Linked DNA regions of Homo sapiens. The protein of the gene in region 2 interacts with the protein of the main gene of each other region in a biochemical or structural test. Each region holds a gene or a part of one and is shown on either strand. Other genes may lie near its edges.

Region 1 (4,378 bases), on a different chromosome or scaffold from region 2:
GCGGCCCCAGTGTTTACACTGAGTTATCAGAGCACTCTCAACTTCCTGTATGCTGAGAAGGGACTTCTGAGGAGGACAGTGGGCTCTGGGCTTCCAAGGCCTGGAGCTGTTATCCTCACTAAACAGCTGTGGTCTTTCTTGTCCCTGCTCTAAAGACATTCTCTTTTGGAGGGGACATTCCTGCCAGGACTCCCATCCAGCTCTCAGCAGGAAGAAGTTTCCCATCCTGAAAAACTCAACAGAAACTAAAAAACTGACCCTCTGCTACGGGGTTCCCGAGCATTTGTAGCCTTTCAGAGTTTGACCTTGATTCAGCGGATAAGACAGGGCTGGCCAAGGCCAGCTTTTTACTGCCTACCCATCATCTTTATGCAAGTTCAGGAGACAAAGGGCTTTAGGTGTTACAGGGCCATGGAGGGGCTTGCCCCACACTGAGCCCCTGCTGAAAGCAGAACAAGAAATGAGGTGGCTGGGCATGGATTGAAATGACAAACTGTAACTCTTCTACAAATGTAGAGGTTTATTTCAACAAAATGTGTAAAGAGTGCATCTGAAGCTCCTGCTCATCACAGTATGTGTCCATCAAATTCTGAGACAAGTGAAGGCTGTTTTGTGAACGAAGAGAACAGATAATATGGCGGTCTCCGTCCAAGCAGGTCTTGGTCAATATCCATCATTTATACTCCTCCTGCCTTAGTAGCCTTGCATGTTTGAGGGGCTGTGGGAATGTCAGATTGCTCATGTTCTGTGCCTCCAACTTGAAAAAATCCTTGTCCAGGGTAAGACCTACAGTAAGGAGCTCTGGGGATGGGGGAGGAGGCATTACAGGGTTCTAGAGAGGAAACATACTCGTTTGTGTCATAATTTGGTGGGGAGAGGGGAGGTAAATGAGTGTAACCCACCCTGCCTCTGAAGACATGCCTGGACAGGCCTCCTGGGGGGTGCAGGACTTCATACCACTTGTAGATATGTGGGATTTGATTTATTGCAAAAAAGCATAGAAGAATAATCTGGTCAAAAATGAATCCAATTCTTACTAGGTAAGCAAATAGCCAGCAATGGTCAATGCATTTTCCTGGACTGAGAATTGTCCCCCACCACTTTATGCCCTTTTCTGAAGGTGCTGAACACCTGTACCTTCCACCAGGGCAGCCGGGCTGAGGCTCTGACTCCTGGGGGCTGTCCGCTCCATACCCAGCCATACAGTGCCCACCTGCAACCCAGAACCATTGAAAAGTCCAGCCAATCTATCCGCACAGATTCCTCCTGAAGAAGGGGAGGTGGAGCTCGTTCTTGTGTGCAAACTACAGGGTTAAGGCTCAGAACTGTGGCTTGTCCAAGAACGTTCATACCACTGCTTCTCAAATGTCTTAGTGATTTCCTCCTTGGTCATCAGTGACAAATGCAGTTAGCTGCACTAAAGGAACCGGATGCTACACCAGCCCTGATCACCTGCCACTCTTGCTTTAGGAACAGAGGAATCAGTAAGTTCTTTTCTTGAATAAACTAGTTGTTGAAAGTAAACTCTCTCCACCACCTGAGGAAGCCCCTGATGCCAGTCAGGAGGGGCCAGTAAGCCTGGAGGACAGCAGCACCATGACTGAGTTGTAAATAATCTTAAGGTCATGTGGATTCTGTGTTTCCTGGAAGCCTCCCTCATCAGGAAGGCCAGCTCCTGGTGCTGAGGGTGTAGCTGTCACCAGGGTCCTTTCAGAGCTGTGGGGAGACCTGCTGCCTGTCTACACTCTGGGGAAGAGAGTAGAACCGTTAGCTGCTAGGACAGTAATCCTGGAACTAGGGAAGAGTGAGTGTGGAGGCACCATTAACCTCTCAAAACCATCCAAGCTCCAGGCTTCATAGGAACAACTTTCCAAGTCCTCAAAACAAACAGACTATCTATCTATCTCACTGGCTCTCCACATGGCATAAATAACTAGTTTCCACCAGTGCAGAAAGGGCAGTTCTCTTCTGGCTCCTCCTCTGCCAACTCAGGCTTCACCACCTGTGGAACTGCTGGGGCCCCTCAAGCACTGGCCTTGCAGCTCCCAGCCACATGCGACAGCTAGTCCAGCAGTGACGTGCAGGCGAGAGGCAGGCCAACAACTACCTTTCCCTTTGTCCTCAGAGACTGAACCCAAGGTTGAGGTCCCCTAAATCAAGAATAACTGGTTCTATTTTCTTTCTCTGCTTCTTGGCTCACAGTTTTGCCCTCATCTTTGAGTTCCTATGGAGCTTGTAGTAGATTTTATGCTCTAATTTTTCTTCATAAAAGGTACCGTAGTGTGGTTAAACTGGGAATCATTCCTCTCCAGTGCCTACTGTGTGCTGGGCTAAGAGTCGGGGTAATAAACAATGGACTTGAGGCTTCCTCCTCTCCTTAGCCCTCCTCTGCTGCCTGTGGCTGCGGCTCATGGGGCCAGGAGTGAGGGGGGCTGCTCACTGCTGGGCAACTCCTCACGCTTCCCCATGCTGGGAGGCCAAGGGGCTGTCAGGACAGGAGGGGCAGCCCTACTTTGGTTAGTAAGACCTCATGGTACATGTTTGTACCTTTCATTGCCTTCTCAGTCCTGTGCAGGGAGTGGAGGACTAGGCCTGGCCAGGGTAATAAATACTGAATGGGGTAGGTGTGACTGGTGGGCTGGAGGGGGATTCTGTGATCTTACATCCCAGGATGTCATGCATAACCTGAAACGAGAGGAAGTAAAATGCCATTTGACTCCAGTGCTGGGTCTCCTGTGCCTTCTCATTACAGTGGTTACAGTTGTAAAAGGCAGCTCTAGCCCTTTTCTCCAGAGACAGGGCAGGGACAGGCAGGAAGCTCTTCCTACGTGGAAGGGGAATCCATTGTGGAGAGGATCCGTATGACTTCTGCTCGCTGAGTGGGTGATATGTGCTGCGTCATATGGATGATGGAATCCATGGCAACCTCTGGATTGGCCTGGACCAAGCTGGAAAGGAAGATTGAGAATGGTGAAGAAAAGAGAAGCAGAAGTGTCTAGATGAGGACAGCTAAAGAACTGCCCAATAAACATGTGTGCACCGTCCACTGCAGACATTTTAGTCACGCCTCACCTTATTTGTTTCCCTATATTACAAATATCCAGCCAAGGTAGTGCAAGACAAACCCAAAACATTTTGCTATGTTGAAAAAGGAATTAAACCCAAAACAAAACCCAAAAAAAACCCAAAACATGCCAATGGGGGCATGTCACAAAGACAGCAATTGGGGCATCAAAAGCAGCCCAGCAATGAATTATAAATCAGTAAAAAATAGAACTTCATGAGTCTGTACCAATAATGTATATATAAAAGAATCGGCAGGAGTGAGGACTGAGTGGTGACTGGTAATTGTGGAGGGTGTGCTGGAGTTGGAAAGTTATCATTTTGCAAGCTCATCGTAAAGACTGCACCAGAGGGAAATTTTGATGAAAGCAAGATACTTGCATGGCCTTAAAATGTCTTCCTGCAGACTACTTATTAGGTGCAAGGGGGGAAAATCAGTAATTATACGGTAGAGAAATGGAGCAACATCTTGACCAGCGGATGAAATTAACACGAGGAGGAGCAGATAAACAGCATGTGCCCCCAGATGTGGTGCCCTGTGAAGGTTCTGGCCAGAGTGCCTCACCTGCATCTCATCATGGGGAGACATCAGACAAACTCAAAATGAGCAATGTTCTACAGATGGTAGATATCAGATAAAAGTTTTTAATCAATGTTAAATTTACAAAAGTGGATCATTTTATGATGGTTATGTAAAAGTATCCCTATTCTCAGCAAATGCACACTGAAATATTTGGGGGTAAAGGCCATGATATATGTAACACCCTTAAGTAGTTCAGAAAGAGGAAAAATGTATACACATATGGGAGGGCAGGCACACTCATAAGTGATATAGCAACGGGGAGAAAATGTAACAGGTAAATCTGAGTACAGATATTATATATAGGGGTGTTCTTTGTACTGTTTTTAATTTTATAACTTTTCTGTAAGTGAAATGTTTCCAAATAAACTTTTACAAAAATGCCCCTGCAGTCTCTACCACCGATCCTATGGAGCAGACTGAAGCCTCTAGAAGAATACAGCTAACTCTTGGCTTCAGGAGGTGAGGAGGTGGTTTCCCAGGAAACCACCACACACACAATCAGCTTTCCTCCCAGAGTTGTTCATCCGGTTTGAGTATCAGCATTCAGAGCTAAGAGGTGGGCACAGTGAATTAAGCCTTCATCTAGCTGAGATTACTAAGTGCCCCTGGGGAGCAGTAGCTGAAAAAGAATTGGGCTTCAGGCCATATCTGTACCTGTGGGTCAACTACAGCTGTCTCAAACAGCAAGAGACTGCAGAGATCATAAGATTTCTGCGATCATCTCATGATTTG
Region 2 (7,033 bases):
ATTCCCAGCAGCAGTCTCCATCAGAGAAGATGGCTAGTGATGCCTCCCTTTTCTAGAAAAAACAAAACCTGGCCAGGCACGGTGGTTCACGCCTGTAATCCCGGCACTTTGGGAGGCCGAGGCGGGTGGATCACGAGGCTAGGAGATCGAGACCATCTTGGCTAACATGGTGAAACCCCATCTTTACTAAAAATACAAAAAATTTGCCGGGCGTGGTGGCGGGGGCCTGTAGTCCCAGCTACTCGGGAGGCTGAGGCAGGAGAATGGCGTGAACTCGGGAGGCGGAGCTTGCAGTGAGCCAAGATGGCACCACAGCACTCCAGCCTGGGCAACAGAGCAAGACTCCGTCTCAAAAAAAAAAAAAAAAAAAAACAAACCTCACTAGCTTAGGAGGGCACTGAAAGTCATCTTACCCACCAACCTTTGTAAAGTTAGAGCTAAGGGAAGCAGTGTCAACTAAGTGCTTCTAAGGCAGAAGCTACATGTCCTTGAAACTCTTCACCTGTGACCTATTTGAGACTGTTGCCAACTCAGTGCTGGAAAGATGGTGGGCCCTGCCAGCTGAGGCGTGCTGTCCTTACCACTGGCCTCTTCTGGGCCTATACCAGGATGGCTACCCAGCTGCAGGGGCACTCCCAGCACAGGAGGTGACCTGAGAAAGGCAAGCCCTGTTGGGTACCCTGTAGGGTAACAAGCACTGAGACCCTGTCCTGGCAGCCCGGCAGGGACCACTGTAGGGACACCTGCATGTGTACACGTGCATTCCTCGTCTCAGCACACATGCCCTCCACTTCAGGGTGGAGTGTTCAGTAGCAGCATGGTTACTTTAAGCACCTCGTAAACAATGCCTCTTAAGAGGTAGCTTGGACCAAGCTGAATTCCTGGATTCCCAAGAATTACGGCTGTGCCATGCATCCCAGAGCTAGGCGGACTGGGCAGGCAATCCAGGTTAGATGGAACAGAAAACAGAATCACAACAGAACTGGCTGTTCTTCAAGATCCAGGAGGACACACACTTCTTTTCTGCATGTAATAATTTCCCGGAGGAGAAATGTGTGTTACCTAGATATCCCAAATTTTGATCCAGGAGTACTGATATTTCTAAAAGCAATTGAATGATTAAAACTAGATTCTAAAATGTGGGGGCCAGAGCATGTAGCTTACTAAGAAGAGATGGTGATACAGTTTGTCATGAAATGTAAATTGAACAGGGCTTAGACTGAGGCAGGCGTGAAGGACAAGGAAGAGTAGTGCAGAAAGGCTTTGCAAGACGAGGCAGCGGTGTCCACACTGGGAACCTCTTGTTATCAGCCCATCCCCACAGCAGAGGTGAACGGCACAGTTCACACTAGGGGGTGACACTGAGCTTGCTCACCAGCTGCTTTGCAAGAGGTGGACACAGGAAAGAAAGCAACTGAACATGACCCACGGCGGATGGTCCGGGCAGATGCCCACATACTTACGGAAATCCCCGTGTCCTTGTTCAGGATGACCTGGAGGAGATGTGGGGGGAGAATAGGGGGTGCCCGAAAGCGCTCTTCGGGTTTGCAGACGTAGGGCTCCTGATGGTAGGGTCCTGGGGGAGAACTGGACAGCTCTGTTGGGAGATGGTAACAGGACTTTACTTTGAAAATCAGGCATTCTAGGAGCAGCCTTACTTATGTTGTCATCATCTCATTTTCCTTGTCTCTTGTTCCCTCAATGCAGATTTACATTCTCTTGAAGGATGCACTGGTTCCAAGAGTGCAGAATAGAGGAGAGGAGAAAACCCTTTTGGAATCTGGGTGACTAGCATACAACTCAGTAGTCAACTCAGATGCCCTGGTGGAAGACACGGCCCAGCCAGTGAGTCTGCGTCAGATCACAAGGAGGCTATTCTCGATAACTTAATCCCACACGCACGGCAGAATAAGACTTCCTTCTCCCTTCAGGCTGGGCTGGCAAAACCACAAAGAAGCTGGAGGCTAAGTGAGGATTGAGTAGCTAAGTCCAAGTTATGGGCACCCCCGGCCGCAATGCAACAGAAGATGAGGCAGTCTGTTTACACAGAGGCCGTGGAGAAAACAGGCTAAACGAGGCACATTTCAAAATGGGGGGGAAAATTGAAAGCCCAATATCTAAAGGCTCTTTAACTCCATTACACTCAAGTTCCTTCCAAACTCTTGCTTGAGTATCTGGATTATTCAGATACACTGAGAAGCTGCTACAAGAGCAGGATTTCATAATGCTAGAACACTGGATAGTGACGTTTGGCCAGCCAGAAGGTACCAAGCCATCATCCAAAGAACGCGTGGGATGGTTCTGGTCGCCAGATCCTGGGACTGGTCCAGGGAAAATCTGCTATGCCCCAGCTCTGCCAATTCCCTCAATGTCATTTTTCAGGGGACAAGCCCCGTTTATGTGACCCAACCATATCACAGCAAGAAACTGAGAAAAGCATGAAGTGCAGAAAACTGAGCCATAAGGAGTAAATAACATTTTGAGGAAGTAAGTGTCGAAACAGAAGTCTGTAGAGAACGTGGAATTAGCTTCGTATCAGTGAGGGGTCCGTTTCCTTTCCCTAGGTGGAAATTTGACTAAAAAGCTTGTAAGTGGCTTAAAATTACATGTATCAGTAAGTTATATATTTTGGAGGATATTTGGGCACACTTCCTCCATTCCCTGATTCTCAACTATCTGCAAAAAAACTAGATGATATCTCTAAAAGACTAATTACCCAGATAAAAGCACAGATTTCGGATTTCCAAGTCCTGCTCAACAAACTGTCAACCACAGTGAGCCCATTGTGATCATTTTACCACTGTGATTTCTGAACTGGTAACAAGAAATCCTGGTGGCAGAACTTCCAGGCCTAACTAGACAATGATGAAGAACTCTCCTGTCAACGAACGGAATCTGTTTTCTTAGGGCGCCAGATATTCTGCCAGGGCATCTTTCCACTGCCTCCCTCAGAGTCCAGGAATTGTTAAGCCCCCGCCTCCAAGAAGGGGAACACTTTAGATCGCAACCCTCTTCCCCCGAACTGTATGAATCATGTTCCAGGTAGTTTCTTCCTGTGGGGCTTGGAGGGAAAGCAATTTATTGAAACCTCGATGCCTGAAAGGCTCTTACAAGATGGAGAAGTTTTACTGGGTCTGTATTTCTGTACCAAATAGCTTCCCATCAAGGAGAGTTGGGCTGTGCAGGCTGTTTCCCGTGGGGAGCCGCATCCTCCCCAAAGGGATTCTGACAAGGTGCTAATGTACCACATAAGTGACTGCTAAGGTCACTGAGGTGTCCATTTACACCTGTCAGGCTGAAATTCTTCAGGCACCACAAGTGGGATGAGACACAGGCTTCCCCAGTGCTGGGCTGTCACTGACTCAGTGCCACCCTCCAGGGCCTCTTCAGCCCTGCCCTTGGCACGAGATCAAGCTATGGTTCCATTTCTGCTGTCTGCGTTCTGTGGCCAAGCAGACCTACTGAATACCTGAGATGACCAGGGAAATGACTTGTAGCTCCCTTAGGGCTAAATTTCAACAACCTGACAGGAATTAAGTTCTGTGGCCTTTAAGTGGGGGCTATAAATGCCTATCTGACTGGGCAGCTTCAGCTCAAGAGAGGCAAGAGAAACAAGAGTATGTCTAGACTGTACAGCCCCCACCTGCACGCATGTGGTATAAAATAACTGTGTTCATACCAGACACATCGGAGCACTTTTGGGAATCCACCATTAAAGCATCAAATACTTCAAAGTCAGTTTTCTTCACTTGAATGATGTTGTTAACTGTGCCAAGCTGGCTGGTTACTATGGGCTGGGAAGAGACAGATAGGCAGAAATCATAACGTGGAAGGTCTGCGGAGTTATTCTTCAGAGGACTTGGAATTCCTGGCTGGAAGGCCTCATCTCCTGGCTAGCCACCCTGCTCATCTTGGTCAAGTATGCCAACTGTCTGACAGGTAGTGCTGCTACTCAGCTCTGCCACACACGGGGACTTTTACTAGCTGGGCAAAGGGACCTAGCGGCAATCTCTTGGGAAGGTGATTTGTTTGGAATGTGCGGGCACCCAGAGGACCAGAGGTGGGAGGAAGAGTACCTCGGAAGGGTCGTGCGTCCACTGACCATCCACAAAGAACTTGTACTGATGCTCTCCTTCCGGCAGATCCAGGATGGCTACAAAGTTATTGTGGCTGCAAGGAAAAAGGAAGCAGAGGACTTCCGTGGGGTGGGCTGCCCCCCGAGCTTACTTGCCAAACCAGCTACAGAACAAAACGTTTCCACATAAAACCAAGAGTTCAGCTGCAGGAGAACAAACATTTTTAGCCCATTTAGACAATTCAGCATAATGACCTCAATCTGAAAAGGCTATAAGGAAGCAGCAGTGCGACACAGTTTCCTGAAAACTCACCTTACTCAAATACCAGGAAACCACATCCCTAATGTTAAAAGGTCAACAGTCAGGCATTTGTGCGTCTCAAGCTCGCAAGGCTCCTGGATGCCAAGGAGGATGACAACACAAGATAAACAGAAGCTGCCTCGTTTTACCCTTTGTCACTTTGCCTTGGGCAGGAGAAGGGATCAATTGAATAGGAAGCTCAAATGTTCTCTAAAGAAACTTGCCTAATGACTGAAAAACCAAACTCCGGAAGAGCCCCTTCACTGGGTTGTTTTGTCCCCTGGCTTGAACTGACCTGTGACTGCTGTGCTGAGTGGCTCCCTCCTTCTCCAATGGAAACGCTGGAAAGCAGGCAGCCCCTGACAATAGGCCTGACACTTTCTCCCTCATTTTATCAAGAATACTCACTAAAGGTGTTCTCTCACTGACAACTTAAGACAGAAGTCCATGCTGGGGTTCCTGATAAAATGTCTTACTATAATCCTTGCTAATGACACCTACATAGCATGTATTTTTCTTTTCTTTTTGGAGACAAAGTCTTGCTCTGTTGCCCAGGCTGGAGTGCAGTGGTGCAACCACTGCTCACTACAGCACTGACCTCTCAGGCTCAAACAATCCTCCCATCTCAGCCTCCCGAGTAGCTGGGGATACAGGTGTGCACCACCATGTCCAGCTAATTTTTAATTTTTTTGTAGAGATGGGGGTCTCACTATGTTGCCCAGGCTGGTCTTGAACTCCTAGCCTCAAGCAATCCTCCTGCCTCAGCCCCCAAAAGTGCTGAGATCATAGGCATGAGCCCCCATGCCCAGCCAACATGTACTTTTCAAACAAAGTATTACGCAGAGTCAAAGTTAGATGAAACCTCAGAGATGATCTGGTCCAATATTCCCTCTTTACAGAAACGAACGCTGAGGCTCAGGTTAACTAACGTTAGGTGACTGACAGCATGGCCAATGTGGGCTCAAATGTGGGTTTCTAAGATTCCAGCCCAGTGCTCCCTTACTGCATTAAGACAGATTTTTGTGTTTCTGTGGAAAAGTCCTGACCGAACAGATAGCTGAGGATCTGAAGTGAAAGATGTCTGTGACACAGAAATATTCTCTTTCTTCTGTACTCTAAACCTAGAGACCACCAAGGTTTAACATTTGAACCTTAAGACTTATTAAGCAAAATTATTTTTCCACTAGGCATCCATTTTATAGAAACATCCATTTTCTGTTCTCTCTCAGAGATGTTTTAGAAAGAAGAGAATTTATGTTAAGACAAATATGTGAACACTCCCCAGGCAATTACCTTCTGGTGAGGGGAAGTTTACTCCAGTTGTTGAAGGACCCAGATAAGTAAACTTCCTTTCCGCCCCCCGTCCATCGAAACACCGTTGGCCGAGCCTGGGCGGGAGCTTTATCATTCACTTCCAGATCATGCTGCCAGGCCAGGAATTCCTCCTTCTCTGGTGCCTAGAAGCAGAGCAGTTTACTCAGAAAGCCATAAGCGAGCTCCCTACAACAGACAATATTGACAATTCATTCTAAAGACGCAGCTGTTACTATCTTGGTTCATGGTTAGGATCGGAAACTTACTAGTGGTGCCTCAGTTTCCTTGCCTGCAAAATAGAAATATATTTTTTAAGGTTGTGAAGACTGAGACAGTCCATGTAAGTGCTCTATATAGTGTCTGACACAGTGAGTGCTAATTATTAGCTATTGTTGTCATTAAAGAAGTTGACATCAAAATTCTAGAAGAAGCTATGAAACACACTTGGAAGGGGCTACTACGAATCCAAGACTAGCTTAATGTCATGTTCCTCCCTTAATCAAGCAAGATTTGAAGTACAGTCATGTGCATGATGTCTTAGTCAACGACGGACTGTGTATATGGTAGTCCCATAAGATTATACCATATTTTTATTGTTATCTTTTCTATGTTTAGATACATTTAAGTACACAAATCCTTAAATATACTTGTGGAATAAGTGTCTACAGTATTCAGTAGAATAACATGCTGTACAGGTTTATAGTCCATAAGCAACAGGTTACACCATATAGACTAGGTGATACGGTTTGGCTCTGCGTCCCCACCCAAATCTCACCTTGAATTGTAATCCCCATAATCCCCACGTGTCAAGGGCAGGACCAGGTGGAGGTATCGATCATGGGGGCGGTTTCCCCATGCTGTTCTCTGACAGTGAGTGAGTCTCATGAGATCTGATGGTTTTATAAGCATCTGGCATTTCCCCTGCTTGCTCTCATTCTCTTCTGCCGTCCTGTGAAGAGGTGCCTTTTACCATGATTGTAAGTTTCCTAAGGCCTCCCCAGCCATGCGGAACTGAGTCAATTAAACCTCTTTTCTTTATAAATTACCCAGTCTCGGGTATTTCTACATAGTAGCATGAGAACAGACTAGGTTTGTGTAAGTACACTCTATGATGTTCACACAATGATAAAATCACCTAATGATGTATTTCTCAGAATATGTCCCTGTCATTAAGTGATGTATGACTGTACATGAAAATTTAAGAGGAACAATTCTAGAGCTGTCAACTTGAAAATAGGCAAATCCAGATTTTGAGGAAGGGAAAAACTACTCACAAAGTTCTGTCTAGGGACTGGGGAATAAAGCAAGACAAAGACTGAACCCTCATTAGGATAAATGATAAC

Evidence for each region.
Region 1: of the proteins of PRKAB1 (region 2) and ACACA, one has a biochemical effect on the other in vitro, tested with the Homo sapiens proteins (one study listed by BioGRID).

Annotation. Positions count from the first base shown.
Region 1 is NC_000017.11:37,084,492-37,088,869, forward strand, and holds the end of ACACA (acetyl-CoA carboxylase 1), read right to left. Parts: intron 2,949-4,378; coding exon 2,825-2,948; 3' UTR 501-2,824; downstream 1-500. UniProt on the Homo sapiens protein: Cytosolic enzyme that catalyzes the carboxylation of acetyl-CoA to malonyl-CoA, the first and rate-limiting step of de novo fatty acid biosynthesis.
Region 2 is NC_000012.12:119,671,101-119,678,133, reverse strand, and holds part of PRKAB1 (5'-AMP-activated protein kinase subunit beta-1), read right to left. Parts: intron 5,834-7,033; coding exon 5,670-5,833; intron 4,171-5,669; coding exon 4,077-4,170; intron 3,795-4,076; coding exon 3,680-3,794; exon of another isoform or gene 1,708-3,679; intron 1,598-1,707; coding exon 1,464-1,597; intron 1-1,463. UniProt on the Homo sapiens protein: Non-catalytic subunit of AMP-activated protein kinase (AMPK), an energy sensor protein kinase that plays a key role in regulating cellular energy metabolism.